Homo sapiens: one gene and its partners. The protein of the gene in region 5 interacts with the protein of the main gene of each other region in a pairwise test. Each region holds a gene or a part of one and is shown on either strand. Other genes may lie near its edges. The genes, in order: DYRK1A, TULP3, SMAD1, ZNF512B and DROSHA.

Region 1 (6,336 bases), on a different chromosome or scaffold from region 5:
ATTACATGGGATCCTGTGGCTCTCCCGTTGCAGAGGCCACAGGAAGATAGGATGGAACGTGACTGGTCTCCTAACCAAGGTGCACTGAGAAGCAATCAACGGGTCGGTCGTGGCCAGTCCTGGGGAGGTCTGAGTGGTGGTCTTTGGGATAACCTTTGGCCTTATGGATTTGGACTCGAAATTAGAAGAGCCTACCATTTCAGATGCAATCACTTTTGGACATGCTTTTGCAGACAGTCCTTAATGCTGAAAACACAGAGAATGGGTAATTCAAGAGGCCTTTCTTTTAAAATAGACTTTTGTGACCCACTAATTGTAAGGTATTGCAAGGTCACTTTGCGTGTGTCATAAAGTTGACTTCCTTATTGGTTGAAGGTCACAGAAGTAGTGGTTTGCTTTGATGGAAATAGCTACAGCTGTGTCCCTTCCTGCTTTTTACTTTTTCTTTTGCTTTTTCTCGGCACGTGGTATCTCCACCATTTCTTCTGCACAAAGATGTCTTCTGTTCATCCTGAACATTTTTAAAAAATGCAGAATTTTATGTGACTGCTTTTTTGCCTCACAATTATGCTGTGAATTTTACAAAAATTTATTTTCTTTTTTGATAATTTATTGTACCAAAGCTGTTTTTATAGCACATAGATGTCTGTAACCAATAATGTAGCAGTTCTGCACTTTGACACAAGGTGTAACTAGACCATTTTTAAATGTCAGTTGAAAATTATGGCTGTACTATTGCTTAAACAAAACTGGAACTGTTGTTGAATCCATAGCCAATACATTTACAGCAATCTGTGTACTGAACATAGTAGATTGACATCTAATTCAAGATTACAACATCTGTTACATTCTAAGTGTGTTCAGGCTTCTGAAGGTAAAGGGACACTGGATCCAGAAGCTATGGAACCAGCAGTTGATTCTTGTATTCCTGATTAACCTACTTGTAAACTTGAAAGCAAGACCTTGATTGCACCAACAGGTCCAGAGTATGAGTGCAAGCAAAGCAGAACTCTCATGCGTGACCTGAGCAGACAGGCTGGTATTTAACAGGTGCCTCGTGTTGAGATTACGCTGCCTTAATGTAACACAGTCTGGCAGTTGCTAAATTTGTGTTCCCATTTTAAATTGACCAATTTTGGGGTGTGACACTTTTGAGCGGTTGAATTGGGAGAATGAAGATAAGTAATTTACCTGTCCAGGATCAAAAGAAGCCTAGAAAAGAAGCAGTAATCTACCTCTGCCGATAACCTGTTTAAGATGACTCAGCAGAACACCGCGTTTCATTCTATTGGTCAATTCCATGTGGCTGACTAGGTCAATTTTTTTTCTGAACAAAAGCAGGTTTTTATATGTAAACAGTGAGAAAAGAAAGGCTAAACACTATGTAAATGTGAATGGAAACTTGGAAATACTCGTTTTTATAAACTACAAAAACTTTTTGTTGTTTATCAGGAAATCCATATTTATTTTGTAATTAACTGTCAAGCCTGTGGATGATTTTTTTGAACTTGGTAGTTCATAAAGGTTTACAGTGAATAAAAGGATATCATCTTGAGTATAGCAATATCAAAAGGAATTCAGTAGTTACTGCTGTTTAGGAATATAAGGTTAAGATATCATATGGGTCAGGTCATTTTTTTTTTCTGTGCTGGTTGCCACATCTTAGCAAGCACCAAAAAACTAAAGCAGTTTTTAAACCGATATTTACGTAAAGAAAATCATAAAATCCAATGCTTCTGCATACTGTGTTATGTTACAGTCCAGTTTTGTGTGCTTTACTACACAGTTTGGTTACAGGACTTCTGTGCATTGTAAACATAAACAGCATGGAAAAGGTTAAATACCTGTGTTCAGATTGTAAGATCTAGTCCGGACTTGCTGTGTATATTGTAACGTTAAATGAAAAAAGAACCCCCCTTTGTATTATAGTCATGCGGTCTTATGTATGATAAACAGTTGAATAATTTGTCCTCAGACTCTTTACTATGCTTTTTTAAAAATTAATTTAAGAAAAATGTAAACATAGTAAAAATCTTCCTATGCAATTAAACTGGTCCAGGTCTGGTAGGTATAGTATCAAAGTTGAGTTAAATGTGTAAAAAGGAAACTATTTGAGATACATTGACATAGGCATCAGCAATCTCTGAAAGTAAAAATTGGAGGTTTAACAGATCATTTTGATTTTTCACATTGATTTTTTTATTTGAATGTTTACATAATTTTGTGATTCAAAATGCTCATATTTTAGTTGGTAGCATTTCGACTGGATGTGAGGGTCTGATGGTTTTCTCTGATATGCTTTGACGTGCTTGGATGAAGGAAGGAATACGAATACTCATTCTTCCTTCCCTAACTCCTCGTACGGGGCCATATCAGAATTCTAGAATTCTTGCCACTGTGATTCAATTGCTAACCTAAAGTCTTCTCTTTTTACAAATTCACCTGCTTCAGTATATATTAAGGTGGCTTTCGAGAGGCAAGATGCTTATTTAAAAGTTAAGCGTGAATCTGTAAAATTAAGGTTGGTTGCGTAAAGTTGAAGTTAACCACATGTAAGAAAGGAAAACTTCCATTAGTTTTCTTCTTAGGGTGTGAGAATTTTACCTAGGCACATGGATATTGGGCTGAAAAAAAAAAACCGACATTTTTATTTAAAACTACATGTAAAAAATCATGAAAGATTCAGTAATTATGTTAGGCTCACAAGTGACCATTGAGTTTGCCCCTGTACTGCTTCCCAGCTTTTGTGGTGTTGAACTTTTCTGTTCTTCCAATAGGGAGATACATAATCAAAATACACACGAAGACGAGATAGCAGGCACTCAGTTCTAGGCCAGTTTCTCAGTTTCCTTTGGGCCTGCCTTTATTTTGATAGTCGCAGAATGCAGGTTCAGATGCGATCCGGTGCATTCTGGGTGGTATCCCCATAGACAGAATACAAGTTCAAGACTCATTTTTATGTCCATTTTTATAGTGGTAGACTGTATGTAATAGACCAGATGGTTCATTCCAAATACATGACTTGGTCTTACTGCTATATATGAAGGAAGTTTGAAAATGTAATGGGGACAAAAGCCGTGCGTGACTTCGGTATACCCAGACTTCATTCAGATTTCTTAAAAATCTGCTAGGGATGTCTGTTGACCAGACGTTGGAAAACCTTTGGTGTCAGGGAGAGTAGAGGAGAAGTTCTGATTTTCATAACCCTGGTTTCTTATCTAGGCCTGTTTCCTTGCGTGAAAACATACATCACCAAGTAATTTGTAGTACAAAGAACAAGAGAAGAAACCCTAAGAAGATAGCTTATTTGTTATCCTCCCTTTTAATGACTAACCTTAATCCAAATGAATCCACTGAGAACCAGCCTGTGGATGCCTACTGGGCTTTCACCCTGGACCAGGAATTTTTGACGTATGCCTGTGTTGAAGGCACTGGATGCTTGTTTTGTGGAAGACATGTTCATTGAGGTAAGTGGCTCATCGCTTGGTGTGTTTGGCTCTCTTTGGCATTATGCATAGCCAAGGTCCCAGATTTTGGCTGCTCTCAGTGGGTGTTCTTGCATCAGAACTTTAAAAAAAATAACACTACCTTAACACTGAGACTGTCAGGTATTTGTCAGTATTTATTTCTAATTTCCTACTTTAAATCTTAGGAGACAAAGTGTTTCTCCAACTGGACGCTGATTTGAAACACAACTAGAATGCTACAGGTCTCTCTTCCAGTATGCAGCTGCTGTACCTGAAAATTTTTCCCCATAATTTCCCATCTTTAGGGTATGTCCCTGTTATCAGGTGTGGAATTAATGTGGGTAAATTTCCATTTCAGTTGAATTTCCTGTCATCCCCAGCAAAACCTGTGAATCCTTCTTCAAAGCATAGAGGAGGCAGAGACAAGTCTTAAACCGGCTTCCCTTCGCTTTTACCAGGTAGCCTGGTTCAGTCCCAGCTGGGTCCTGAAGGAGCACAGTACTAGAGCCTGAGTCATGTTGACTATTAATAAAGTGCATTAAGTTTGGGTCAGGCAAAGTGGTGGCAAAAGTTCATGATGCAGGACAGAGGAAACAAGTGGACAAGACAAGTGGAGCCCAGCTCTGTTCGCATGGGAGGCCGGGCGATGCTGGCATGGGTGTGGTTGGCCGAGTTCTCATAGCTAGAGAAAGGCCGTGTAGGTATAAGTGCTTAATGTTTCATCTGTCTGAAAGACCAGCTATTTGATAATCTTCCCGATTAAATTTCTAAAATTGCTACTTTGGGAATTTTTTTCTTTATTCTTGTAAAGTTTTGCTTCCATTATATACTCATTCATTAGTCAGTGTACTTGCCCCTGAATTCCATATCTGAAACTGCAGTCACGGGAGATTCAGAGCCAAGGGCAAAATAAAGTGGCAGGCACTGGGTGTGTGTGGTAGTTCTGCACTAGGGTGGCCAGGAAGCAGCCAAGCAGGTGTGCCGGGCAGGGAGTTGTTAATGAACACCCAGGCAAGAGGACGGGCCTGAGCCTGAGTGTGGCCAGCAGAAAGTGTTGAGTTGCTTAAAAGAGACCCTGGGAGGATGAATTTGGAATCATCATCCACTCACTGTTGGACAGAAAGACTGCAGAGAAGGGCACTGCTGGGGTGGGGTTTGTTAACTCCCTCTGAAATGAAAGAAAATACCTCTAGTGGCATGAAACGGCTAAGTTTTTTTTAATGTTACTTCTTTAATTTTAGAGACGGTGTCTGGCTTTGTCACGCAAGCTGGAGTTTGGTGGTGTGATTGCAGCTCACTGCAGCCTTAAACAACTGGGCTAGGTGATCCTCCCATCTCAGCCTCCCAAGTAGCTGGGACTACCTGTGCACACCACCATGCCTGGCTGTTTTTAATACGGGGTTTTGCTGAGTTGCTCAGGCGCTCCTCAAACTGCTGGCCTCAAGTGATCCTCCAGCCTGGGCCTCTCAAACATAAATAGGCTGGGCGTGGTGGCTCACGTCTGTAAAGATTTAAAGCGGAAAAGCGGAATGCAGTGAAATAGCATGAGAAAGAGCGTTTTTATGTACATCACAGACAAGCCTTGTTCTGCTGAAGAGGTGATGCCACGAGGTGGGGAGGAGCTCACTTCAGGCACCACTCCCACTTCCATTGCCCGCAAATCCAGGAAAGAAATGACTAATGAACTCTAGTGATCGCAAACTGCTCAATCGGTACTCATCAATTTAAAATGACTGTCCAGCCTTGCTGCACACTAAACTCATCTGTAGAACTTTATAAAACCACGGATGACCATCACACTAGCAGGATTTTAGATTCAGAGTTGGGGTGGGGCCTGGAGCTCTGTTTTCTGAAACTTTGCGGGCCATTCTGAACCTGCAGCCAGGCAGGACTCTGGCAAGAAGAGGCGTGTGGCTAATATGACGGAAGTCTGAATCCAAGGACTTTTTTTTTTTTTTTTTTTGGAGACAGTCTTGCTTTGTCTCCCAGGTTGGTGTGCAGGGGTGTGATCTCGGCTCACTGCAACCTCCATTTCCCAGATTCAAGCGATTCTCGTGCCTCAGCCTTTCAAGTAGCTGGGATTACAGGTGCACACCACCACACCCAGCTAATAGTATTTTTGATAGAGAGGGGGTTTCGCAATGTTGGCCAGGCTGGTCTTGAACTCCCGACTTCAAGCTATCCACCTGCCTCGGCCTCCCAAAGTGCTGGGATTACAGGCGTGAGCTACTTCACCCAGCCCCAAGAACATCTTGAAATGGAGTTTGATTACCAAAGTTTACATAGAGTAATGGATAATTAAAATTTTCAATTTATGGTGCATTACAAAATGTTATAAACAAGCCTCCGGGAAAGGCAGAAATTGCCAGATGTAAGTATATAAAACTTACACAGTTTGTTCCTTTTTGTTGTCTTCCCTTGTGGAGATGGGTCAGTGTAACATCCTATTCATTAATAGCTCTCAGATGTCCCATGAGAATGGCACATGTTATTTCCCAACAGTGGGAATGGAATTAGTTCCTTTATATCTCAGTCTCATCTGGTCTTGTAAGCCGGTGAAGGGTTTCCCAGGGCACCAGCCACCAGCTCTGTATAGTAGTTACAGTTTCCCTCTCTAGAATCCCAAAGAGGTTCAGATCCCACTGCTCCTCTCATTGGCTTCGTGACCCTGGGTACGCTGCTCAACTTGCGCAAGGATTACTGTCCGCTTTGTACAATGGAGATACCTATAGTGTCCACTTAGGAGATGCTGTGCATGCCTCAGTGAGGTAATGTCCGCAGAAAGCACAATGCCTAGTATGTAGAAAGTGTCCGATAAATATAATATGCGGCTAAACAGCGGAGTCCACAGCCTGAATGGAACTTCTTT
Region 2 (6,336 bases), on a different chromosome or scaffold from region 5:
TAAATCTGAGGCTCGTCACTCTTTCATAACACACATTGATCACACTTTATTTTACATCTGCATTCCTCTCCAGATTATATACTCCATGAACAAGAAACAATAGAAAACAAAAAGACTATCAGTATCTCCTCCTCTAACTCAAATGTAAGAATAAAATGAAAAAATAGTTTTTCATCCAGCAGTTTTAAATTTCCTATAAAAGATGCTCCATAAATCCAAAGTACTAGTATTTCAAACATTCCTAGTTAGATTTAGTTAACTAGACAGAGATTAAGAAAATGCCAGGGGGCCAGCCATGGTGGCTCACGCCTATAATCCCAGCACTTTGGGAGGCTTAGGCGGACAGATCACCTGAGGTTGGGAGTTCGAGGCCAGCCTGACCAACATGGAGAAACCCCGTCTCTACTAAAAATAAAAAATTAACCGGATGTGGTGGCACATGCCTGTAATCCCAGCTACTCGAGAAGCTGAGGCAGGAGAATCGCTTGAACCTAGGAGGCGGAGGTTGCGGTGAGCCCAGATTGCACCATTGCACTCCACCCTGGGCAACGAGAGCGAAACTCCATCTCAAAAAAAATAAATAAATAAAATAAAAAGAAAATGCTGAGGGGAATAAAACTGCTGTAAAGAATAATGCATCATTGAATTTTTTTTTTACTGTGGTAAAATATGCATCGTAACATAGAAGTTACCAGTGTTGGCCTGGCATGTTGGCTCACACCTGTAATCCCAGCACTTTGTGAGGCCAAGGTGGGCAGATCACCTGAGGTCAGGAGTTTGAGACCAGCCTGACCAACATGGTGAAACCCTGTCTCTACTAAAAATACAAAAAAATTAGCTGGGCTTCGTGGCGCACACCTGTAATCCCAGCTACCGGGGAGGCTGAGACAAGAGAATTGCTTGAACCCAGGAGACGGAGGTTGCAGTGAGCTGAGATGGTGCCACTGCACTCCAGCCTGGGCAACAGAGTGAGACTCCATCTCAAAAAATCATAATAATTTACCAGTGCTGCAGCTCTTTTTAGAATTTGTCTAGCAAGTTTTCCTGTTTTTACTGAAGCCTTCCCTTCCCTTCCAAATAACAAAAAGTACACTTTTTTTTTTTTTAAGAGTTCGGGTGGGCCGAGACGGGCGGATCACGAGGTCAGGAGATAGAGACCATCCTGGCTGACACGGTGAAACCCCGTCTCTACTAAAAATACAAAAATTAGCCGGGCATGGTGGCGCGCGCCTGTAGTCCCAGCTACTTGGGAGGCTGAGGCAGGAGAGTGGCGTGAACCCGGGAGGCGGAGCTTGCAGTGAGTCGAGATCGCGCCACTGCGCTCCAGCCTGGGCGACAGAGCGAGACTCCGTCTCAAAAAAAAAAAGAGTTCGGGTGTAATTCTGTCACCCAGGCTGGGGTGCAGTGGCACAAGCATAGCTCACTTTAGCCTCAAAATCCTGGGCTTAAGTGATCCAACCACCTCAGCTAGCTAGGACTACAGACACACAGGTACCATCGTGACCAGCTAATTTTTTTAAAAAAACTTTTTATGGAGACAGGTCTCAAACTGGTGGCCTCAAGCAGTCCTTCTGCCTCAGCCTCCCAAAGTGCTAGGAGTTCAAGCACGAGCCACTGTGCCCTGCCTAAATTTTTTTTGTTTTGTTTTTTTGAGACAGAGTCTCTGTCTCCCAGGCTATAGTACAGTGGCACAGTCTCGGCTCGCTGCAAGCTCCGCCTCCCAGGTTCAAGCGATTCTCCTGCCTCAGCCTCCTGAGTAGCTGGGACTACAGGTGCGTGCCACCACACCCGGCTAATTTTTTGTATTTTAGTAGAGATGGGGTTTCACCATGTTAGCCAGGATGGTCTCAATCTCCTGACTTCGTGATCTGCCCACCTCAGCCTCCCAAAGTGCTGGGATTACAGGCATGAGCCACCGCGCCCAGCCTGCCCTGCCTAAAATTTACAACTTTAATCAATTTTAAGTGTGAGATTCAGTGACATTAAGTGTATTAACAATGTTGTGCAACCATCACTACCATCCATCTCCAGAACTTTTTCATCATCCCAGAGACTTCACACCCATTCAAGATAATTCCTCATTCTCCCCTGCCCCCAGCCCCTAGTAACCTCTATTCTACTTTCTGTCTCTATGAATTTGCCTGTTTTATGTATTTGGACAAAATAGTTGTGTTTACGGTCAGAATAGTTAAGAATGTTTTAAGCAAGAAAATTAAAACTATCTTTGTTTCAAAGACCTTTTTTAAACAGTGTTGGCAGTGCTAACAGTTCTTCCTTTTCTGCTAGATATCTCTGAAAGTGTGAACTTCGATGAGGAGACTGATGGAATATCCCAGTCAGCATGTTTAGAAAGACCCAATTCTGCATCAAGCCAGAATTCAACCGTATGTAGTTCTGAAACTTCTTCCATTAGAGCTAATTTGACTCTTTCTCAAACATATCTTCAGTATTTATTTATTTATTATTATTATGTATTTTTTGAGGTGGAGTCTCGCTCTGTCACCCAGGCTGGAGTGCAGTGGCATGATCTCAGCTCACTGCAAACTCCGCCTCCCGGGTTCACGCCATTCTCCTGCCTCAATCTCCCGAGTAGCTGGGACTACAGGCGCCCGCCATGACACCCGGCTAATTTTTTGTATTTTTAGTAGAGACAGGGTTTCACCATGTTTGCCAGGATGGTCTCGATCTCCTGACCTCGTGATCCGCCCGCCTCAGCCTCCCAAAGTGCTGGGATTACAGGCATGAGCCACCGTGCCCAGCCCTCAAACATATCTTCAGTATTTAAATACCATTACTGAGTGAGGGTTCCTTCAGAAGTGTAAGCTCAAATTTAGTTTATGATCTAATTTTTTCTGTCTCAGGTCAGCTATTGTGAGGCTTTGTCCCATTTTGATACTTACTCTTCATTACTCTCAATATTCATATACTTAATTTAACTTTTCAGTTTTCCTCATTCTGTCAGAAGACTGAAGACACGGGTAAATTACTAAGTTGCTTTGTCCACTAAGTGTTTTTCAAAGAGAATCAGATTTTGAGTCTCGGCCTGTTGTTGCTCATGTATGGCTGTCCTTTCAGGATACAGGCACTTCCGGTTCTGCTACTGCCGCCCAACCAGCTGATAACCTCCTGGGAGACATAGACGACCTGGAGGACTTTGTGTATAGTCCTGCCCCTCAAGGTGTCACAGTAAGATGTCGGATAATCCGGGATAAAAGGGGAATGGATCGGGGTCTCTTCCCCACCTACTATATGTACTTGGAAAAAGAAGAAAATCAGAAGGTATGAGAATTGATTTCTAAGAAAACTCTTGAGAGAGAGAAGAATGTTGTGGGAATAGATTGTTGATGGGCCTTAGGGAACTAACTCTGGTATTAGACCAAGCCAGCTGGAAGTAGATTGTATCTTTCAGTCCCCAGATGCTGTGTTCTCATTTTCTGCAAAGAGCTCATGGTCTAATAGGCAGCAAGCTCTACCCTCCCACAAATAAGAGCTTTATCCACGAAGTGGGAAAATGGACGGGTAGTTGTTAATGTAATTATTTTCACCTGTCTCCCATGATTGAGTTTTTGAATGTTACTGTTTGTTCTTTTGGTTTTTCTTTTTATTACGGAAGAACATGACATTGTGGAAGGAGAGTGAGTTTTAGGGAATAGGAGGAATTAGAAATACAGAAGGACCTACAAGTTAAATGTCTTGTTTCTCACCCTAGAAGTTCTAATTTATTTTATAAGTTTGAGCCAGCGATGAACTTTATTTTATTAATTTTGTATTAATACCAGGTCTTAACAGATGATTTTAAGAGCCTAGAAATAAGATAATGATACTAGGTGTTAATTCTTCTAACCACCATTTATTGAGTGTTTACGACAGACCAAGCATATGCATATATATCTATATATATTATCACCTGTAATCCTTGCAGCCACCTTGTTAGGTAGGATTTCTTACCTCTGCTTTAAAGATGAGGTAACTGGGGCTTAGGGAGTGACTTACCTACCCCACGTTGCACTAAGTGGTGGCAGAGCCAAATTCAAACCTATTTTGCATAATTCTAAAGTCTTCCTGCTTAGCCACTGCCACTCTCCTGCTTCCCTATTATGGTCCTAGTCTAGGAGAGTTTAGGAAGGATGCCTATATAGGATGGTATTCATGCCATTGAGGTCACAGTGGTTTAACACAACAGCAGTATAGAAAAAAGAGTATTTCCTCCCTGGAGAGGCTTCCCTTTTGTCCCTTCTTGCCCTTTGCCTAATCAGAGTCTTTCCTGATGTGCTTCACCAGATGTGGTTGACATTCCTCTGTCTGTGTCCCCATGGCATGAAGAAAGCTATCACAGGCCAGGTGCGGTGGCTCACACGTATGATCCCAGCACTTCGGGAGGCTGAGGCAGGTGGATCCCTTGAGGACATGAGCTCGAGACCAGCTTGGCTAACATGGGGAGACCCTGCCTCTAGCAAAAAATTAAAAAATTAGCCAGGAGTGGTGGCATGCACCTGTAGTTCCAGCTACTCGGGAGGCTGAGGCAGGAAAATCACTTGAACCTGGGAGGCAGAGGTTGCAGTGAGCTGTGATTGCACCACTGCACTCTAGCCTGGGTGACAGAGTGAGACCCTATCTCAAAAAAAAAAAAAAAAAAAAGCCATCACAGTAAAGAATGGGAAGGTTTTCAGGATCCTGTCTCTCCTAAGGTTGGAAAGACTCTTAATCATGGCATTGGATGAACATTGATTGTTATTTATTTATTGGATTTTGCAAGGTTGCCCAGGCTGGCCTTGAACTCCTGGACTCCAGTGATCCCTCTACCTCAGCCTCCCAAGCAGCTGGGATTATAGGCTCATGCCACCTGGCCCAGCTTTGGAGATTTTTTTTTTAACTGGAAGTTTTAGGGATGAAGTTGTAACTAATTATATGGAGAATCAAGCTAGTGAATTTAGAAAAACTGTATAGGAAGAAAACCCTGATAGTGAATTATTTTATTTTTATTTTTTATTTTTTTTTTGAGACAGAGTCTCATTCTGTCACCCAGGCTGGAGTGCAATGGCATGATCTCGGCTCACTGCAAGCTCCGCCTCCTGGGTTCATGCCATTCTCCTGCCTCAGCCTCCTGAGTAGCTGGGACTGCAGGCGTCTGCAACCACGCCCAGCTAATTTTTTGTATTTTTAGTAGAGACAGGGTTTACGGTGTTAGCCAGGATGGTCTCGATCTCCTGACCTTGTGATCTGCCCACCTCGGCCTCCCAAAGTGCTGGGATTACAGGCGTGAGCCACCACACCCTGCCTGATAGTGAATTCTGATAAGAGAGTTAGAGAAAGGGATAAAGGCCCAAAGATTAACAGCTTGACATATGCTGAGGACTTGCTAAGCACTGGCTGAATGAATATGTAGGACAACCATGACCAGAGGTGGGGCAGGTTCTCTGGACTTCATTTTTGACTGACACTTTTTCTTTTCCCAGATATTTCTTCTTGCAGCTAGAAAGCGGAAAAAGAGCAAAACAGCCAACTACCTTATCTCCATTGATCCAGTTGATTTATCTCGTGAAGGAGAAAGTTATGTCGGCAAGCTTAGGTGAAAGCAACCTTAGATCACTGTCCTATTCTTTCTGATAGTCTTATTCCTATAGTTGCAGAACAGTCCTTATCTTGGTTACAACTAGCATGTATTGATGTTGTAATCTTAAAAAAAAAGAAAAAGGAAAAAAAAAAAAGCTGGGCGCAGTGGCTCACACCTGTAATCCCAGCACTTTGAGAGGCCAAGGCGGGCGGATCACTTGAAGTCAGGAGTTGGAGTCCAGCCTGGCCAACATGGCAGAACTCCCTCTCTACTAAAAATACAAAAATCAGCCAGGTGTGGTAGAACAGCCTGTAATTCCAGCTACCCGGGAGGCTGAAGCACGAGAATTGCTTGAATCCAGGAGGCAGAGGTTGCCGTGAGCCAAGATAGTGCCACTGCACCCCAGCCTGGGTAACAGAATGAGAGTCTGTCTCAAAAAAATAAAAAAATAAGGCTGGTGTGGTGGCTCAGGCCTATAATCCCAGCATTTGGGGAGGCTGAGGTGGAGGATCACTTGAGGCCAGGAGTTTGAGACCAGCCTGGGCAACACACTGAGACATTATCTCTTCAAAAAACTTTAAAATTAGCCAGGCGTGGCAGTTCTCACCTGTAGCCCCAGCTACCCAGGAGGCTAAGGTGGGAGGATGACTTGAGCCTGGGAGTTTGAGGCTGCAGTGAGCTATGATCCCTGCCACTGCACTCCAGCCTGGGCGACAGAGCGAGACCCTGTCTCGAATTAGTAAGTAAATAAAAAGTTAAAAGAAAATCTCAGTTCCTTCCTT
Region 3 (6,336 bases), on a different chromosome or scaffold from region 5:
TTATTATGACATGAATTCATAACTTACTGTACTAATAGTAAATTATACTTTACCATGGCCTGGATAACACAAGGACCTTAGAATGCTAACTTCATATATCTCTTTTTGCTGTTGCCATGCATTTTAATTGTACATATATTTTAAACATCACAAGACATTCCTATTGTTGTTTTGTGAAGTCAGTATTCATTTAAACTTACCCTTATTTCCCCTTCAGGAGCTCTTCCTCATTTCCTGCAGTTCTTTGCTTATTTCTAGAGTCTTTTTCCTTCTGCCTGAAGAATTCCTGTTAGTATTTCTTTTAGTGACAATCTGCTGTAAACCAGTTCTCTCAGATTTTGATTGTTGGAAAGCATCTTTATTTCACAATCATTTTTTGAATGTGTTTTTCCTCTAAATGTAGAATTTTAAGTTACCAGCTATTTACGTTTGGCACTAATGATGTCATTTCATTGTCTTCTGGTTTCCATTGTTTATGCTGAAATGTCAGCTGTCAACCTGATTGTACTTACTTGAAGGTAATGTGCCTTTTTAAAGAGTTTCATCTTAGGTTTTCAAGAATTTTACTGTTATATGACACATTGAAATTTGTGGATTTCTCTGTATGTATCCTTGGAAGGTGTAGGGCTTCGTGAATGTATGGTTAGATGTCTGTTGACAGTTTTGGAAAAATCCTTGGCTAGTATCTAAAAATATTGCTCTGTTACAGTCTTTCTTCTTTTCCTTTAAGACTCTACTTATGCAGTGCTAGACCTTTCACTAGAGCCATTATGTCTCCTTAGTTCTTTATTTTTCATTTTTTCCCTCTCTTTGCATTAGTATGAGCATTTTTTACCAGTCTTCCTGCTCACTAATCTTTTATTCTACTGTATTTAACCTGTTGTTAAGTTCATCCTATTTAAAGTCTCATTAGTTATATTTTTCAGTTCTAGAATTTTTATTTCATTCTTCTTTATGGATTCCAGTTCTCTGTTAAAATCTTCAACCTTGTCTTCTCTTTCCTTGACATAGTAAATAGTAATCATTAATACTTTAAAGTCTGTTTCTGGTAACTCCATTACCTGGGTCACCCGTTAGGTCTGTTTCTATTCTGTTTTGTTTTGATCATTTGGTCCTGTTTCTTGGTATGCTTGATAACTTTTGGTTCATTGCATACACTGTGAATTTAAAATTGTAGTGGCTAAGGTTGATGTTGTCTTCCTCTACAGAGAATTTGTTTTTCTTCTGGCAAGCTGTTAGAGAGCAATACCCATCACCTAGACCAAGGCTAGGATTAAGATGATTCTAGATTGGTTGTAAAGACTGATCCGTTTCATTTTTGCCCTTAGACTGGGGCATATTCCTCCAGGAGCTTCCATTGAAAGCCTAGACTATTTACCAGGGTTTCTCCTCAGCAGGCCCTCAACTCCATTTGTTGCTGTGTTGTTATTTTGGGGTTCCTCAGCGCTATGAGGCTACTAGAAGCTCTGCTTAGTTTTTAGCCTCTTAGTTACCTCTTTCTGCTCGGCTCCTAGACCTTTTGCTGCTCATAGCATAGCTATTGGCAAATCCCTGGAAAGAGTGGTGACGAATATTCAGCTCACTTCATTGCATTTCCCCTCTCTCCAGGATCTTGGCCCCCTCAAGTCCTGAGTGCCTTGGTTCCTCTTTGATGCCTTTAAAAAGCTGGGCTTTTGTTTGTTTGTTTTCTGGCTTGTTTGTTTGGAAGGAGGTTGGTCTGATACGTGCTACTCCAGTTTAGCCAGGGTTTGTACAAAGTTAACCTCCTTAACCTTTTTCACATTTTATGTTTTCATGTGCTAAAGAGTAAACAGTTTAAATGAGGCAACTTGGCTAAAGAATTTGGTACAGTATGTGTCCATGTGCTTTATTCCTTTTATGTCAATAAATAGCAACATTTTTAAAGCAGGAGATGTATTTCCTATCCTATTTGTCCTGTAGCCCATAGACACAGGCTTGTTCACTGAAGAAATACCCTAAAATATTACTACATTTATATAAGAGGAATTTTCTTTTAGCCTAAGAAATATTTGTAGAACAAACCAAAAAAACAGAGATATTAGACTATTTTTTTCTCCCTGTTGCTTTCAGTTTTTGTTGATTGAGGTGTTTTGAAATATATTTTTAGAGGTTATAAATGAATCTAAATCTAAAATATTACAATATCTTTTGAGAACTTGGGCTTTTTAACTTTGTTGCTTTTATCCCAGAGCTTTTGCTAACAGTGGCTTACTTTTTAAACTGCTTCTCAGTTTACTCATCTGTAAAGTGGCAGCAATTGTATTACCTAACTCAAAGGATTGTGAAAAGCATTAAATGCTATATATTAGTCTGCTTTGGTTGCCATAATAAAATATCATAGACTGGGTGGCTTAAATAACAGAAATAGATTTTCTCTTTGTTCTGGAGTCTGGAAAGTCCAAGATCAAGGTTCTGGACAATACAGGCTCTGGTGAGGGCTCTCTTCCTGGCTTGCAGATGATCACCTTCTTGCAGTACCCTCAGTGTGTGTGCATAGAGGCTGGAGGAGGGAGATAGCAATCTTAAGACCACCAGTCCTATCAGGTTAGGGCCCCACCCTGATGACCTTACTTAACTTTAATTACTTTCTTAGAGGCTCCATCTCCAAATATAGTCATACTGAGAGTTAGGGCTTCCGCATATGAATTTTAGGGGTCACAATTCAGTCCACAGCATACTGTATTACATAAAAGCACTTAAAATAGTACCTAGCACATGGTGATTACTTAATAAATGTGGTTGTATGGTAAAGATGATTCTAACCATTCTTTTTTTGTTTTGTAGGTGCTGACTGGGTTACTTTTTTAAACACTAGGAATGGTAATTTCTACTCTTCTGGACTTCAAACTAAGAAGTTAAAGAGACTTCTCTGTAAATAAACAAATCTCTTCTGCTGTCCTTTTGCATTTGGAGACAGCTTTATTTCACCATATCCAAGGAGTATAACTAGTGCTGTCATTATGAATGTGACAAGTTTATTTTCCTTTACAAGTCCAGCTGTGAAGAGACTTCTTGGGTGGAAACAGGGCGATGAAGAAGAAAAATGGGCAGAGAAAGCTGTTGATGCTTTGGTGAAAAAACTGAAGAAAAAGAAAGGTGCCATGGAGGAACTGGAAAAGGCCTTGAGCTGCCCAGGGCAACCGAGTAACTGTGTCACCATTCCCCGCTCTCTGGATGGCAGGCTGCAAGTCTCCCACCGGAAGGGACTGCCTCATGTCATTTACTGCCGTGTGTGGCGCTGGCCCGATCTTCAGAGCCACCATGAACTAAAACCACTGGAATGCTGTGAGTTTCCTTTTGGTTCCAAGCAGAAGGAGGTCTGCATCAATCCCTACCACTATAAGAGAGTAGAAAGCCCTGGTAAGTGAGTTATTTTATGTTGATGTGCTTTGTGTGCCCAGTACCAGATTTGTGTTGTTTAGAACATGAAAATAATCCCTTTGCTTGTTTTTAGTTGTAATTTAAAAATATTTGGGGAAACTGTGTGTGTGTGTGTGTGTGTGTGTGTGTGTGTGTGTGTGTGTCTGTGTGAATGCAAGAGAGAAAGCCCCTGAGTGTTTCATACATTTTAACAGCTTAGTCATCTCTAGTTAACATTATGTCTTGGGAGCAGGCTATGACAATTGTCATTGCAGTACTAATACCTCTAATTTTTAATAAATTGTTTTCTTTCTAAATTTATTTTTTATGTCTCACATGGTTCTCTGCATTTCTCTAGATAAAATTAGCTATGAATTGTATTCTAAGGGAAGAAAATTAGGAAAGAAATGCATTATTGCTGTCTATATGCTTAAGGGAAGTACATCATGAGGGTAGTTGCCAGTGACTTAAACCATTCTGAACTTAAGAACAGCACTTTTTATCATCTCTGGCGGAATTTTGCTGTGGCATATTTCCTATGGTGAATATGAAGGAATTATATCCTTCTATGGAATCATTTGATGCTATTACTTTATAAAATATACCCAGTTTTTACATGTATAGTCTTTTGGGAGGGTATGGTAAAGGATATATTTTAAAATTTATACGGTTTTGCCCTCAAGTTAGAATCTACATTCTAGAGAGTTGGATCATTGGAAAGTGATTAGATATTCAAGCACTTAAATGTCTCATTGTCGATTGGGACCAATTTTGTTGATGGATTGGCTGTTAATAGTTCCTGGGTTACTAAGGCTGTATATTAGAATCACATGGCTCTCCTCCCAGAAATCCTGATCCTGGGATAGCCTGGTAATCTTTGTTTCTAACAAGTACTTCAGGTGTTACTGATGTAGCTATTGGATTGGTGTTTAGGAATTACTAAACTAGATCATGTAATAACATGGTTTTCAAATAAAAGGCATTCTGTATTTTTGTGGAATATTTAAGACATATTTTAAAAAAAGATTTTAAAGACCAGTAGTATAACAAACATCTCTGTATCCCCTACTCATTTTAAGAAATAAAAGATTACGTGTAAACTGGAACCCCTGTTTTTGCTCCTCTGATTCTGCTCCCTTTGGTAACCACTGTTCTGAATCTGACGCTTATCATTCTCATGCATGTTTTTATACTGTTATTACATATGTATGAGTCCATGACAATATGTAATATTTTATATATTTAAAAATGTTACATAATATTGGAGTTTCTTTGTACAACTTATGTTCATCCAACATTACGTTTTTGTGATTTCTAGATTATATACTTTAGGATTACCTTGTTAAGTCCTATGAAAAACACTTTGGGAATTTATTGGAATTTCGTTGATTTCATTTGGGGAAGATTGGCCTACTGTGCTCTTGAGCATAATATTATTTAGTGCACTTTTAAGTTTCTCCATACAGCTCCTGCACTTACTAGATTTATTTCTAGATAACTGGTTTTTATTGTATCCTTTTAAAAGTTACATTTTGTTACAGTTGCTCTTGGTTAAGAGAGCATTGCCTTTTTTCTAACAACTGTGCTGAATTCTCCTTACCAGTTTGGATATAGACGTTCTTTACTGCTTGTTATATCAGCTGTGATGCAGTGTTCTTTTTTCTAAACTCAGCACAGAGGTACATGTCCCTCTTCTAGCCAGAAATGGAAATGGAGCTAAGAGTTTTGGAGAGTAAAATGTAGTAGATAAGTAATATGTACCAGCAATATTATTTAGGCACATGATTTTTTTGATCCTCGTAGTAACCTTAAAATGTATTAATACATAGGTAAGATTTTAATTCTACTCCATATGCGATGAAACTGAGGCCCCTACAAGTTAAGTGCCTTGTGTTAGAACTAGAAAATAGAGGCATTTGACATGAAAGGCAAAATTCACTATTTAAAAGACACTATGAATATGTCTTCTCCATCCATACTCCCCCTCACCCTGCGCTAACCTTCCAGCATTTCATCTTGCAATGCAGCAACTGCCTCCTGACTGGTCACCCCCTTCAGTCCATTGTCTACAGAAAGGGATCTTTTAAGATGCAGACATGATCCTCTTGTTGTCCTACTTTTCCCTACTCTTGAGAAGTCCTCTAGAGAGGTCTGCACATTCTGGTCCTTTCCTCCCTTTCCAACTTCCTTTGTACTCTTGCATGCTTTGTGTGCTTGAGTTCTCTGGAAACATTCCATGCACGTTTCCTCTATCTGTACCTGTTTCTCCTCCCTCTTTGTCTAGCCCACTCTTATTTATCGTTTGTGTCTAGCACATGGTCATTACTTAATAAACTAAGTAATTGTGTGATGGAGGTCAGTTTCATTGGGAAACCTTTCTTGATACCTCCTACTTCACACATATCTCCCTACTCTGCTTGGGGAGGTTAGGTCTCATTTCCCATAGCAACCTGAATTTCTTTAGAATGTTCTTCACACTTATAATGATTGTTCTGTTGGTCTTCTCTGCAAGATAGTAAATAAAGCTCCATGAGGGCAGGGACTATGTGTATAATTAACATCTCTATTTTTAGCAACAAGCATAATTTGATAAATTTTTGCTGTTAAATGGTGATGCTGATTTTTAATTTAATATCGTCATTTGGCCATTTTTTTAGTGCTGAATTTTCAGTTTATCTATACCTTTTGACCATCTTCTTCCCTTCTTTGGTCATTTTATGGCTATTACACCTCTGATACAAGGTGAAAAGTTAAAACCAATACTGAGATGAATTTGTTACTCTTAATAACATATGTGCTAATAAAATAATGGGGAAGAGGTGGAAAACTGGCTTACATAGGCATTTTGAGACTCCACAAATGCCATTTCAGCCTCTCCTTTACCCAGGAATCTTGTGAGTCATGGATAGAATAGAACAGTTCTGGAAAACATGGAGGCTGAGGCTAAGATCTATT
Region 4 (6,336 bases), on a different chromosome or scaffold from region 5:
CAAGCCGGTGACAGTCAGCAGGCCCATTGCTATCAGCAGACACACACCGCCCTGCAAAATGGTGCTGCTGACCAGGTCGGAGAACAAAGCACCTCGTGCCACAGGGAGGAACAGTGGTAAGAAAAGGTATGGGGGCTCGTCCCAGGTCGGGGAGGAACAGTGGTAAGAAAAGGTATGGGGGCTCGTCCCAGGTCAGGGAGGAACAGTGGTAAGAAAAGGTATGGGGGCTCGTCCCAGGTCGGGGAACAGTGGTGAGAAAAGGTATGGGGGCTCGTCCCAGGTCGGGGAGGAACAGTGGTGAGAAAAGGTATGGGGGCTCGTCCCAGGTCAGGGAACAGTGGTAAGAAAAGGTATGGGGGCTCGTCCCAGGTCAGGGAACAGTGGTGAGAAAAGGTATGGGGGCTCGTCCCAGGTCGGGGAACAGTGGTAAGAAAAGGTATGGGGGCTCGTCCCAGGTCGGGGAGGAACAGTGGTAAGAAAAGGTATGGGGGCTCGTCCCAGGTCGGGGAGGAACAGTGGTAAGAAAAGGTATGGGGGCTCGTCCCAGGTCGGGGAGGAACAGTGGTAAGAAAAGGTATGGGGGCTCGTCCCAGGTCAGGGAACAGTGGTGAGAAAAGGTATGGGGGCTCGTCCCAGGTCGGGGAGGAACAGTGGTGAGAAAAGGTATGGGGGCTCGTCCCAGGTTGGGGAGGAACAGTGGTGAGAAAAGGTATGGGGGCTCGTCCCAGGTCGGGGAGGAACAGTGGTAAGAAAAGGTATGGGGGCTCGTCCCAGGTCGGGGAACAGTGGTAAGAAAAGGTATGGGGGCTCGTCCCAGGTCGGGGAACAGTGGTGAGAAAAGGTATGGGGGCTCGTCCCAGGTCAGGGAACAGTGGTGAGAAAAGGTATGGGGGCTCGTCCCAGGTCGGGGAACAGTGGTGAGAAAAGGTATGGGGGCTCGTCCCAGGTCGGGGAACAGTGGTGAGAAAAGGTATGGGGGCTCGTCCCAGGTCGGGGAACAGTGGTGAGAAAAGGTATGGGGGCTCGTCCCAGGTCGGGGAACAGTGGTGAGAAAAGGTATGGGGGCTCGTCCCAGGTCGGGGAACAGTGGTGAGAAAAGGTATGGGGGCTCGTTCCAGGTCAGGGAACAGTGGTGAGAAAAGGTATGGGGGCTCGTCCCAGGTCGGGGAACAGTGGTGAGAAAAGGTATGGGGGCTCGTCCCAGGTCGGGGAGGAACAGTGGTGAGAAAAGGTATGGGGGCTCGTCCCAGGTCAGGGAACAGTGGTGAGAAAAGGTATGGGGGCTCGTCCCAGGTCGGGGAACAGTGGTGAGAAAAGGTATGGGGGCTCGTCCCAGGTCAGGGAACAGTGGTGAGAAAAGGTATGGGGGCTCGTCCCAGGTCAGGGAACAGTGGTAAGAAAAGGTATGGGGGCTTGTCCCAGGTCGGGGAACAGTGGTGAGAAAAGGTATGGGGGCTCGTTCCAGGTCAGGGTGCTCCTCGGCCACGGCCTGGGGGTAATGGGGCCCACAGTTAGGCCCTCCTGGCCCTCACCTCACCTGCTCCCTGCAGGGCTGCGGACAGCCTGGACACCTGCCCAATTCCACCCAAGCAGGCCAGGCCAGAGAATGGGGAGTACGGCCCCTCCTCCATGGGCCAGAGCTCGGCCTTCCAGCTGAGTGCAGACACCAGCAGTGGCTCCTTGTCGCCAGGCAGCAGGCCGTCAGGGGGCATGGAGGCACTGAAGGCTGCAGGCCCTGCGTCCCCGCCTGAGGAGGACCCGGAGCGCACAAAGCACAGTAAGATGAGAGCTCCAGGGGTGGCGGCCGGGGCAGGCTCGGCCTCCTGACGGTTATTTCACCAGAATCTTGGCCCCCGTTTTCTCTCCCCGAGTCAGGAAGGAAACAGAAAACACCCAAAAAGTTTACAGGGGAGCAGCCATCCATCTCAGGGACCTTTGGGCTCAAAGGTAAGACCCCAGCCCGGTGTGCACCTCCAGGGCTGGGGCTGTCCACCGAGTGACAGCCCCTGAGCCCATCCCTGTTTCTCTCCACCCCATGTGTGCACACAGGCCTGGTCAAAGCTGAGGACAAGGCCCGAGTTCACCGCTCCAAGAAGCAGGAGGGGCCAGGCCCTGAGGACGCCCGGAAGAAGGTGCCAGCTGCCCCCATCACTGTCAGCAAGGAGGCACCGGCCCCTGTGGCCCACCCAGCTCCAGGTAGGGGCTGCCTGGCAGGGGCTCAGGGCAGCTCTAGACGGCGGGTAGATCCCACAGCACAGGGATGGGGGCTGAGTGTGGAGACTGGATTCTGTGCCTGGCGTCTGGGCCACCCAGCAGCCCCCACAAGCCTTCGAGGCCCCTGCCTTACCCACAGGTGGCCCTGAAGAGCAGTGGCAGAGGGCCATCCATGAGCGCGGGGAAGCCGTCTGCCCCACCTGCAACGTGGTCACCCGGAAGACTCTCGTGGGGCTTAAGAAGCACATGGAGGTGTGTCAGAAGGTAAGGCAGCTCCCGGAAGGCGCTGGGAGGGAGGCGCCCTGGCCCCAGGCAGGCTTCTCACATGTGGGCCATCTGCAGCTTCAGGATGCACTCAAGTGCCAGCACTGCCGGAAGCAGTTCAAGTCCAAAGCCGGCCTCAACTACCACACTATGGCCGAGCACAGTGCCAAGGTACCGTCGGGCCCCCAGCTCCCGTCCAGCGTGACCTCTGACCTCGCACCCCACCTTCACCGCAGTGCCCCCGGTTTCTAACCTCGGACAACGGTGGCCCAACACCTGGGCGGGGCGGGGCCAGGGCAGGGCTCCGTGGCGATGGTGCCGGGTCACCGATGCTCACCCTGTCCCCAGCCCTCTGACGCCGAGGCCTCCGAAGGGGGCGAGCAGGAGGAGCGCGAGAGGCTGCGCAAGGTGCTGAAGCAGATGGGACGGCTGCGCTGCCCCCAGGAGGTCAGTGGGGGGCCGCGGCAGTGTGGGGTGGGGGGGCCCTGCTGGCCACTCACCCACCCTCTGGCCTGACCCCCAGGGTTGCGGGGCTGCCTTCTCCAGCCTCATGGGCTACCAGTACCACCAGCGGCGCTGCGGGAAGCCGCCCTGCGAGGTGGACAGCCCCTCCTTCCCCTGCACCCACTGTGGCAAGACGTACCGATCCAAGGCTGGCCACGACTACCACGTGCGCTCGGAGCACACGGCCCCCGTGAGTGGCTCTCTGTTCTGTGGCACAGTGCTTGTTCCTGTGTGCCGTGTGTGTTCCGTGTGCCTTGGGTGCCAACTGTATTTGTCCATGTACCGCCCAACGCGTGTGTTTCCCACCCCTCTCTGTAAGAGACGTGTGTCCTGGTGGGCGGGAGGGTGAAACCTCCGTGTTCCCTCGGGTTGCCTGCGTCAGCCATGTCCCCAGCACACTGGGAGGCCTGTGGGTCCACCGGCCTTAGGGTGGCCTCGCCGCGCGCTGACCTGACTCTTGCTCCCGCGGCTCACTCTAGCCTCCATGCCTTCCTGCCCTCCAGCCCCCTGAGGAGCCCACAGACAAGTCCCCTGAGGCTGAGGACCCGCTGGGTGTGGAGCGGACCCCAAGCGGGCGTGTCCGCCGCACGTCGGCCCAGGTGGCGGTGTTCCACCTGCAGGAGATAGCGGAGGACGAGCTGGCCCGCGACTGGACCAAGCGGCGCATGAAGGATGACCTTGTGCCCGAGACCGCACGGGTGAGCTGCCCCCCCCAGGGCTGTGGACAGCGCCGTGGCCTCTGCGTGGGGCATGCCTTGGCCTGAGACTTGGGACAGCCACTGCTGTGACCTGGGCCACCCGCTGCCCCCGCCATCTGCGGCGAGTGTCGCCTGCTGCCGAGGCGAGTGTTCTTAGAGCAGCTGGGGTGTCTTCTGGCCTCAGGCTCACCCTGGTGCTGTCGAATTCACAGCTCAACTACACTCGACCAGGGCTCCCCACGCTGAACCCCCAGCTGCTAGAGGCATGGAAGAATGAAGTGAAGGAGAAAGGCCACGTCAACTGTCCCAACGACGTGAGCGGAGGCAGCCGGGTGGGGGGCGTGGGGAGCCATACAGGGCCAGAGCCTGGGTGTGGCCCTCTGAGCAGGAACAGAGGCTGAGAGCTTTCAGGAGGTGCCCAAGCCCACCCCAGGCCTCACATGCCCAGCCTGCCCAGTCCCCAGGACTCACACCCCCTCACTTGCCCCAAAGAGCCTCAGAGATCCCCTGGGGTAGGGCAGGGGTATATCTTGGTGTGGGGTGCCCACCAGAGGCCTTCGCCCACGGCTCCCTTCCCTGCAGTGCTGTGAAGCCATCTACTCCAGCGTGTCCGGACTCAAGGCTCATCTCGCCAGCTGCAGTAAGGTCAGTTCTGGGGCCTGCCCCACGGCCAGGTGCGCTGCACTCAGAGCTCCCAGCTCACCCCACGCGGGCTTCCCACACAGTAGTGAGGGACCCTGCCTTGTCCCCTACTTTTTCTACGTGGCCTCCTCTTCCACGAACCCAGAGACTGGCCGGTGGCTGATGGCCAGCCTAGGACACCTCCCTCGCCCCAACCCCAGCCACAAGACAACGAGTCCTAGTCCTGTCCTTGGAGCTCTGCGTCCATGTAGGCATGGGTGGGCACCCCGACCCACGCAGATGGCACACTGGCTTACAATAAGGGATGCTCGGCAAAGGTCTGCAACTCTTCCCCTGGGCACCTGCCTCTCCCTACCCTTCCTCTCCCCTACCACCCCTGCCGCCCTGGTAACTCAGTGGCCCCCTGCATTGTCTGGCACAGACAGCCACAGCTTTCCTTGGGCCACCGCTGACTCTGACCCTTTAGCCATGAGTAGGGGCTTAGGACAGATCTGGGTCCTCCAAGGGCTGGGGCACTGGCCTGCCTATGCATTGCAGGGGGCCCACCTGGCAGGGAAGTACCGCTGTCTGCTGTGTCCGAAGGAGTTCAGTTCTGAGAGTGGCGTCAAATACCACATCCTGAAGACCCACGCAGAGGTGCGAGGGCCATCACCAGGGCCTGTGGCTGGGGGCTAGCCCAGGAGGGGACAGGGCTGGGGTTGGGCACCCCTTGGGGGTAGAGAGGTCAGTGGCCTGCATGGGGTGTGCCTGGGAGAGTGGCCAATGTGGAGAAATCTGGTAGTTTCTCCTCAAAGTGGGGTCTGGCTTCCCTGGGAGAACTGGGAGGCTTGCACCCTGAGCTGGAGCTGCCCTCGGGGTGTCCGCCTTTCCAGCCCCCAGCAGCCCTGCTGCAGGTGCTTGCCTGGTCCCGAAGGCTGTGTCCAGCCCTGCTGCAGGTGCTTGCCTGGTCCCGAAGGCTGTGTCCAGCCCCCTGCAGGTGCTTGCCTGGTCCCGAAGGCTGTGTCCAGCCCCCTGCTGCAGGTGCTTGCCTGGTCCTGAAGGCTGTGTCCAGCCCCCTGCTGCAGGTGCTTGCCTGGTCCTGAAGGCTGTGTCCAGCTCCCTGCAGGTGCTTGCCTGGTCCTGAAGGCTGTGTCCAGCCCTGCTGCAGGTGCTTGCCTGGTCCTGAAGGCTGTGTCCAGCCCTGCTGCAGGTGCTTGCCTGGTCCCGAAGGCTGTGTCCAGCCCCCTGCAGGTGCTTGCCTGGTCCCGAAGGCTGTGTCCAGCCCCCTGCTGCAGGTGCCTGCCTGGTCCCGAAGGCTGTGTCCAGCCCTGCGGCAGGTGCCTGCCTGGTCCTGAAGGCTGTGTCCAGCCCTGCGGCAGGTGCCTGCCTGGTCCTGAAGGCTGTGTCCAGCCCTGCGGCAGGTGCCTGCCTGGTCCTGAAGGCTGTGTCCAGCCCTGCGGCAGGTGCCTGCCTGGTCCTGAAGGCTGTGTCCAGCCCCCTGCTGCAGGTGCTTGCCTGGTCCAGAAGGCTGTGTCCAGCCCTGCTGCAGGTGCTTGCCTGGTCCCGAAGGCTGTGTCCAGCCCTGCTGCAGGTGCTTGCCTGGTCCCGAAGGCTGTGTCCAGCCCCCTGCAGGTGCTTGCCTGGTCCCGAAGGCTGTGTTCAGCCCCCTGCTGCAGGTGCCTGCCTGGTCCTAAAGGCTGTGTCCAGCCCTGCTGCAGGTGCTTGCCTGGTCCTGAAGGCTGACAGGTCTTCAGCTCTCAGGCTATGCCTGGCTCAGGTGCTCAGCATCCAGTCCCAGGTCTTCATCAGCGCTTTTCTCTCCCCAGAACTGGTTCCGAACATCAGCAGACCCACCTCCCAAACACAGGAGCCAGGACTCATTGGTGCCCAAGAAGGAAAAGAAGAAAAATCTGGCAGGTGGAAAGAAGCGGGGCCGAAAGCCCAAGGAGCGGACCCCAGAGGAGCCTGTGGCCAAGCTGCCCCCGCGCCGGGACGACTGGCCTCCAGGATGCAGAGACAAGGGGGCCCGGGGCTC
Region 5 (6,336 bases):
CTTTGATCTGGATGTAAACTTACATGGATAGTAGTAACTTTGTTAGTGGAGCTGTGAAGGCTACCAGGTGATCTTACAAAGCAGTTTTTCTACTTAGCTGGATTCTCAAGGTCTCTGTGTTCTACCTAAATTTCTTGGGCTTAAATTAAAATCTACCCTGTAGGTTTTGTTGTTATTGTTGTTTTGAGACAGCATTTTGCTCTGTTGCCCAGGCTGGAGTGCGTGGTGCAATCATAGCTCACTGCAGCCTCAGCCTTCCAGGCTCACGTGATCCTCCCACCTCAGCCTCCTGAGTAGCTGGGACTACAGGTGTGCACCAACATGCCTGGCTAATTTTTGTATTTCTTGTAGAGACAGGGTTTCACCATGTTACCCAGGCTGGTCTGGAACCCCTGGGCTTAAGTGATCCTCCCGCCTCGGCCTTCCAAAGTGCTGGGATTACAGATGTGAGCCACCACGCCCAGCTGACCCTATAGGTTTTTCCCTCCAAGTACATCCATAGGATGGGTCTTTGCAGATTTCAAGCCCCAGGAAGTCAGGGAGATGGAGTTGTTTTTTCATCTTTCTTTATTGACTGAGTTAATATTAATATCTGTGAGGACCAACATTAGGCAAAGTGTTGGTTCACCAAGTAGTAATGCCCAAGACTGGGGTTCCAGAGACAGTTAGGGATGACATAAGTGGTTCACTCTCGGATTATAATTATAGTCCTCAGGCCAAATTTATGGCCATATTGAGACCCTGTTTTGTGAAGTCTTAAAATCTTTTTTTCCTGGCAAAGACAGATGTGGAGGATTCAAAACTGGTATTCTCATTGCTGAAATTGTCCATATGTGGACATTTCCAAACATTTTGCAAATATCTTTTTCTTTTAGGAGTTACGGTTTATCGGTTGTTCCTGAACCTGCTGGATGCACACCAGAATTACCTGGGGAGATTATTAAAAATACAGATTCTTGGGCCCCACCCCTGGAGATTGTGAATCAGTAAGTAGATCTGGGGTGGGGCCTGGGAATTTGTATTTTTAAACAAGTAAACTTCAGGTGATTCTGATGCCACCAGACTGGTATTTGGGAGTCACTGGTTTAACAAAAGTACACACGGTGATTTGGCATGGTATTCATATTTTAGGTGAAAAATGCACCAAATAGGTGAAATAGAATAGTTTTTACAGTGGAAGAGTATTTTTAATAATTAACCTCCTTTGCCCTCTTTTGAAGTCGCTCCCCAAGTAGGGAGAAGAAGAGAGCTCGTTGGGAGGAAGAAAAAGACCGTTGGAGTGACAACCAGAGTTCTGGCAAAGACAAGAACTATACCTCAATCAAGGAAAAAGAGCCCGAGGAGACCATGCCTGACAAGAATGAGGAGGAAGAAGAAGAACTTCTTAAGCCTGTGTGGATTCGATGCACTCATTCAGAAAACTACTACTCCAGTGACCCCATGGATCAGGTGGTAGGTCTGAAGTAGCAGACAAGCTGTAGACTAGGGCTTCTCGGCGTTGTCACTATTGGCCTTTGGGGCTGGATAAATTCTTGATTGTGGGGACTGCCCTATGCATTGTAGGATGTTTAGCGGCATCTCTGGGCTCTACCTGTTAGATGCCAGTAGTACCCCTCCCCAGTTGTGGTTACCGAAAATGTCTTCAAATATTGCCAAATGTCCCCTGGGGGGAAAAGATCACCCCCAGTTGAGAATCACTGTTACAGACAAAAGCCGTTTTAAAAAGCTAAAAGCCAAGAGTGCAGTAGGTTAATTAAAATATCTTTTTATAATGCATTTTTATTTATTTATTTTTGAGACAGGGTCTCGCTCTGTCACCCAGGCTGGAGTGCAGTGGCACCATCGTGGCTCACTGCAGCCTTGATCTTCCAGGCTCAAGTGATTCTCCCACTTCAGCCTCCTGAGTAGCTGGAACTACGGGGCACGTGCCACCATGACTGGCTAATTTTTTTTTATTTTTTAGTAGAGATGAGGTCATACTATGTTGCCCACTCTGGTCTCGAACTCCTGAGCTCAAGCAATCCTCCTGCCTTGGCCTCCCAAAGTGCTGGGATTACAGGTGTGAGCCACTGTGCCCAGCCTATTCTACATTTTTAATGATACTGGTAGTCTCAGTACTGGTGGTTTCATAAGCTTTCACATGTAACTAGTTTATGCAGTTTGTAGTGTGTATGTGTATGTGTGTGTGTGTGTGTGTGTGTGTGTGTGTGTTTTCTCCAAAATGAAAAATAAGGAAGAATTTGAGTTTGTCTCTTCGAAGTGTATCCTTGACCAAAAGAGCACCAACCCTACGAAGTTGCCCATGCATATTGGCTAGTTTTGCAGAAAGGGAGAGCCATTGTCACCCTTAATGGGCTGGAGGGAGGACTCCTAGAGCACATGCTGCCAGGGCCGGGGCGCCTGTGGTGCTACAGCCGGCGTGCTCATTGCCATGACAGACTCCACCACTATTTCTACATGCTCACTTCTCTTTTCTTTCTTCCATCTCCATTTTATTTTCTGTCACTGTCACCTTTTTGCTCTCTCTTCCCCTCTTCCCCCTAGGCGTTATGCCTCCATCCTGTTAGGCATATTTGCCACAGAGTAGGCATGTTGTAATGTTCATTGATTAAATGAATGAGTGGACATCTCATTCATTTAATTAATGAACTCGTGCAGATTTCGGGCATGAAAAGTTGCAGATGTTAGATTTAGTGTATGGGATTAGATAAGAGATAAGAGAGAGTTGTGTTATTTGGAATTTTGTGAAAATAGCTTCTATTTGGACTCGTATCTGTGGGGAGCTTGAAAGGAGATTTCTGTGTTTTTGGAAACAAAGGATTTGAGAAGTCTCTCATAGTGGTGTGATATTTTATTTGATAAATTAGAGCAGGCTTTTAAGTCATAGTTGATGTGGTACAGGGAAGGGAAAGCTCACATACTGTGCACTTTACGGTGCCTGAATGTTATTCCATGCTTCTCATGTTGTCTTAGTTGACCCTGAAAACACCCCTGGCAAGAAGGTGGTTCTGTCCGTTAGAAATGCTGCTAGGAGTAATAACACCTGACTAAGTGGGACTTAAACAAGCTGGGTTTGTTCTTCTCATAATAAGGTACCTGGAGGGAGGCCATGGCTGGTGTTCACTGAGTGGCTCAGTGATGGCAGGCCCTGCTGTCTTCCTGAGCATCTTCCACAGTTGCAGGATGATGCAGGACTAGCAGGCCTCAGGTCCTTACACACCCGCATCCTCACACGCAGGATGCAGAGGGCATGTTGGGTGAGCATTCTTCTAGTGTCTTGCCCGAGCTCTCCTTTCATCCCTTGACTCCCCTTCCATCCCTTTACCAGAGCCATGTGACATGCCTACCCCAGGGATTCATTTTTCCTTACTGCCATGACAGAGTTCCACAAATGGCATGGCTTGAAACCGCACACATTTGTCATCTCACAGCTTGGGAGGTCAGAAGTCCAGCATGGGCCTCACTGGCTCCATCAGGATGTCAGCAGGTCTGTGCTCCTTTATGGAGGCTCTGGAGAAAATCTGTTTTCTTGCTCATTCAGGTTGCTGGCAGAGTTCAGTTGCTTGTGTCTGGAGGACAGAGGACCTTGTGTCCTTGTTGGCTGTCAGGTGTGGGCACTTCTTGGTTCCTCCAGGCCATGTGCATTCCTTGACTTGTGGATCCCTTCCTCTGTCTTCGAAGCCAGCAATGGTGGTCGAGTCCTTCTCGTGTTTTGAATATCTCTTGCCTCTTTTTCTGTTGTATCTCTGACCCCTGTTGGCAAAGGTTCCCTGATTTTAAGGATTCCTGTTCTAAGATTGGGTCCACCCAGCTGCAAATCCTTTTTGCCATGTAAGTTAACATATATATTTAATTTCTGGGGATTAGGACATGGACATCTTTGGGAGGGGCTGGTGGCTCAGCCTACCTTCCCAGAGATCAGGAGTTCTCTTCTCCAAATCTTACAGAATCCTGCTTCTATTAGGAAGAAGGGAAGAATGGCTGCCATAGGTGTTATTATTCTTAAAACAATAAAGATGAAGACACTGAAGTTCAGGGAGTTTAAACAGGCAGGGCTGGTTGTTTTTTATTACATCGTTATGAGTATATTAAAACTCCAGTGTAGGAGGAAGACTGATAAACTCAAAAGGCTGACATTTGCCTTTGAGTTTTGTCGTCTGTGTGGTGCAGAGAAGGTGGTGAGAATGTCAAAGCTATACCGGCATCGCCACTCCCAACAATGAGATGGGGCCTGAATTATCCCCTCTTCTGGGTACCAGATTTTATGATTTGCCTTAATTTTACATTTGACAGGTCTGGTTTTTACATTTTAAGGCTACTAAGTCAGAGTGTGGAGATGTAAAGTGATTTTCAACCTGGAAATTGAGTGAGGAAAAGTGGAAAATTTTCTCTAGGAATCTGTTGCAGAGTCCCGTGTTTGTGGTATGTGTTTGTGTGTGTGTGAGAGAGAGTGTGTGCATGTTTATGTCCTCGTGTTTAAGGCATGAGAGTGTGTGTGTGTGTGTGTGCGTGTGTGTGAGAGAGAGAGAGAGGGGATATATAGGATATTTCTTATTGCTCGATGGATTGATATAGGAGAAGATAGGTTATCAGTGATTTTCAGTAGGAAGTGTACATTCCCTATGAGGGTATTTGATGTCAGTTGTCATGATTCTCTGAGGGTCATGATTTTTTAAAAAATGTCATATTAATAGGGCATAGATGAACTGTTCTAATGTTTCTTTTCTGTTTTTTTTTTTTTAGATGAGGTCTCTCTATGTCACCCAGGCTAGAGTATAGTGGCACAGTCATAGTCATAGCTCACTGCATCCTCCAACTCTTGGGCTCAAACAGTTCTCCTGCCTTAGCCTCCCAGGTAGCACAGGCACACACCACCTGGCTAATTTTTTTCTTTTTCATAGAGGTGGGGTCTTGCTATGTTGCCCAGGCTGGTCTTGAACTCCTGGCCTCGAGCAATCCTCCTGCCTCTGCCTCCCAAAGTTGCTAGGATTACAGGCGTGAGCCAGCACGCCTGGCCTGTTCTAATGTTTCTGAATGTTGGCAAGGCACATTTACCTGAAGACTGTGTCAGCGATAAGTGTGTGTTTGATTCAGAGTATGATTGCCAGTACTTGAGCATTTTGTTTTTAAATGTTTGTTAAATTTAGGGTTGAAAAATAGCATCTTGCTGTTAAAAATGCTTTGATTACCTGTGAGATCTTACATATCTTTGATATGATCGTTATTGATATAGTTCCTAATATTGATCCTTTATTTTTAAAAGGGAGATTCTACAGTGGTTGGAACGAGTAGGCTTCGTGACTTATATGACAAATTTGAGGAGGAGTTGGGGAGCAGGCAAGAAAAGGCCAAAGCTGCTCGGCCTCCGTGGGAACCTCCAAAGACGAAGCTCGATGAAGATTTAGGTGAGTCAGAGTCACTAACTAGCCTGAGACCCTTGCGATTATAGCTTCATTCCTAAATTTTGGGGAAATACCCTTGAGAGTCCCACATTGAGATTTCTTCTTTTTCATTTTATTTTTCTTAATTACAGTCAGTAAGATACATAGCAGTAGAACTTCCTTCTTTTTGATCGTATTTTTCCTTAGTTCATTTGGCAGAATACAGCAGCGATCTCATTTGCAAGGCATGCTAACAAGGGTGCCCCTTGGAGAGTTGTCCAGTCAGAAGAGTTCAGCATCTTTCCGAGAGCAGGAGCCCATGCCCCCTGCCTCTCATGAGGACAGGTGTCCTTCCTTGGCCCTCTCCTTTGCCAGGTGCGCCTGGTTTGATGAGGGAAACAGCGACTGTACCCCAGCTCTGTTTGAAGGTTTCTCTCCACTTGTGTAGACAGTTTGCATAGCTTTTTCATAAGGTGGTCTATTTTTTCATGTGTATGTTCTGAGGTTCCAAGTAGGTTGTGAGATCTTTGAGAATGGAAATTGCTTTTTATCACTTTGTATCCTTAGCCCCTAACAGAATGCCATGCACAGATGAGACATTCAGTGTGCATTTAGCTACATGTTCTCTCTAGCTCTTATCTGCCCACCTCCATTACATCCCACACGCTGAGAGGCAGTTATCCATACTGGGCAAAGACACCTGAGTTGGGAGTTGGATGGCTTGGGTTTGAATCCCTGCTCTACCACCTACTTGATATGTGACCTTGGGCCACAGGTTAATCTCCTTAGATTTTTCCCATTTGTAAAATAGGGATGACAGTAGACAGTAGCATCTATCTCATGCAGTACATGTAAATACAACTCCATGTTGGATTTCATTATGCTACTACTATGTTAATCTCTTATAGGATTAATTTATTTTAAAAATTAATTATTTTTCTTTTTGTGGAGATGG

What was found.
Region 1: the proteins of DROSHA (region 5) and DYRK1A interact in a two-hybrid assay, tested with the Homo sapiens proteins (one large-scale study listed by BioGRID and IntAct).
Region 2: the proteins of DROSHA (region 5) and TULP3 interact in a two-hybrid assay, tested with the Homo sapiens proteins (one large-scale study listed by BioGRID and IntAct).
Region 3: the proteins of DROSHA (region 5) and SMAD1 interact in binary tests that used the Homo sapiens proteins (3 or more experiments, as listed by UniProt).
Region 4: the proteins of DROSHA (region 5) and ZNF512B interact in a two-hybrid assay, tested with the Homo sapiens proteins (one large-scale study listed by BioGRID and IntAct).

What each region holds. Positions count from the first base shown.
Region 1 is NC_000021.9:37,513,205-37,519,540, forward strand, and holds part of DYRK1A (dual specificity tyrosine-phosphorylation-regulated kinase 1A), read left to right. Parts: 3' UTR 1-6,336. UniProt on the Homo sapiens protein: Dual-specificity kinase which possesses both serine/threonine and tyrosine kinase activities. Exhibits a substrate preference for proline at position P+1 and arginine at position P-3.
Region 2 is NC_000012.12:2,927,962-2,934,297, forward strand, and holds part of TULP3 (tubby-related protein 3), read left to right. Parts: intron 1-1,003; exon of another isoform or gene 1,004-1,064; intron 1,065-2,286; coding exon 2,287-2,384; intron 2,385-3,075; coding exon 3,076-3,279; intron 3,280-5,456; coding exon 5,457-5,569; intron 5,570-6,336. UniProt on the Homo sapiens protein: Negative regulator of the Shh signaling transduction pathway: recruited to primary cilia via association with the IFT complex A (IFT-A) and is required for recruitment of G protein-coupled receptor GPR161 to cilia, a promoter of PKA-dependent basal repression machinery in Shh signaling.
Region 3 is NC_000004.12:145,511,633-145,517,968, forward strand, and holds part of SMAD1 (mothers against decapentaplegic homolog 1), read left to right. Parts: exon of another isoform or gene 1-1,850; intron 1,851-2,805; 5' UTR 2,806-2,981; coding exon 2,982-3,381; intron 3,382-5,381; exon of another isoform or gene 5,382-5,562; intron 5,563-6,336. UniProt on the Homo sapiens protein: Transcriptional modulator that plays a role in various cellular processes, including embryonic development, cell differentiation, and tissue homeostasis.
Region 4 is NC_000020.11:63,959,931-63,966,266, reverse strand, and holds part of ZNF512B (zinc finger protein 512B), read left to right. Parts: coding exon 1-126; intron 127-258; exon of another isoform or gene 259-711; coding exon of another isoform or gene 712-755; intron 756-763; exon of another isoform or gene 764-1,362; coding exon of another isoform or gene 1,363-1,403; intron 1,404-1,550; coding exon 1,551-1,777; intron 1,778-1,871; coding exon of another isoform or gene 1,872-1,875; coding exon 1,876-1,947; intron 1,948-2,049; coding exon 2,050-2,196; intron 2,197-2,353; coding exon 2,354-2,478; intron 2,479-2,556; coding exon 2,557-2,649; intron 2,650-2,826; coding exon 2,827-2,925; intron 2,926-3,001; coding exon 3,002-3,172; intron 3,173-3,485; coding exon 3,486-3,680; intron 3,681-3,892; coding exon 3,893-3,994; intron 3,995-4,262; coding exon 4,263-4,325; intron 4,326-4,859; coding exon 4,860-4,958; intron 4,959-6,127; coding exon 6,128-6,336. UniProt on the Homo sapiens protein: Involved in transcriptional regulation by repressing gene expression. Associates with the nucleosome remodeling and histone deacetylase (NuRD) complex, which promotes transcriptional repression by histone deacetylation and nucleosome remodeling.
Region 5 is NC_000005.10:31,510,104-31,516,439, reverse strand, and holds part of DROSHA (ribonuclease 3), read left to right. Parts: intron 1-875; coding exon 876-986; intron 987-1,220; coding exon 1,221-1,452; intron 1,453-5,263; coding exon 5,264-5,405; intron 5,406-6,336. UniProt on the Homo sapiens protein: Ribonuclease III double-stranded (ds) RNA-specific endoribonuclease that is involved in the initial step of microRNA (miRNA) biogenesis.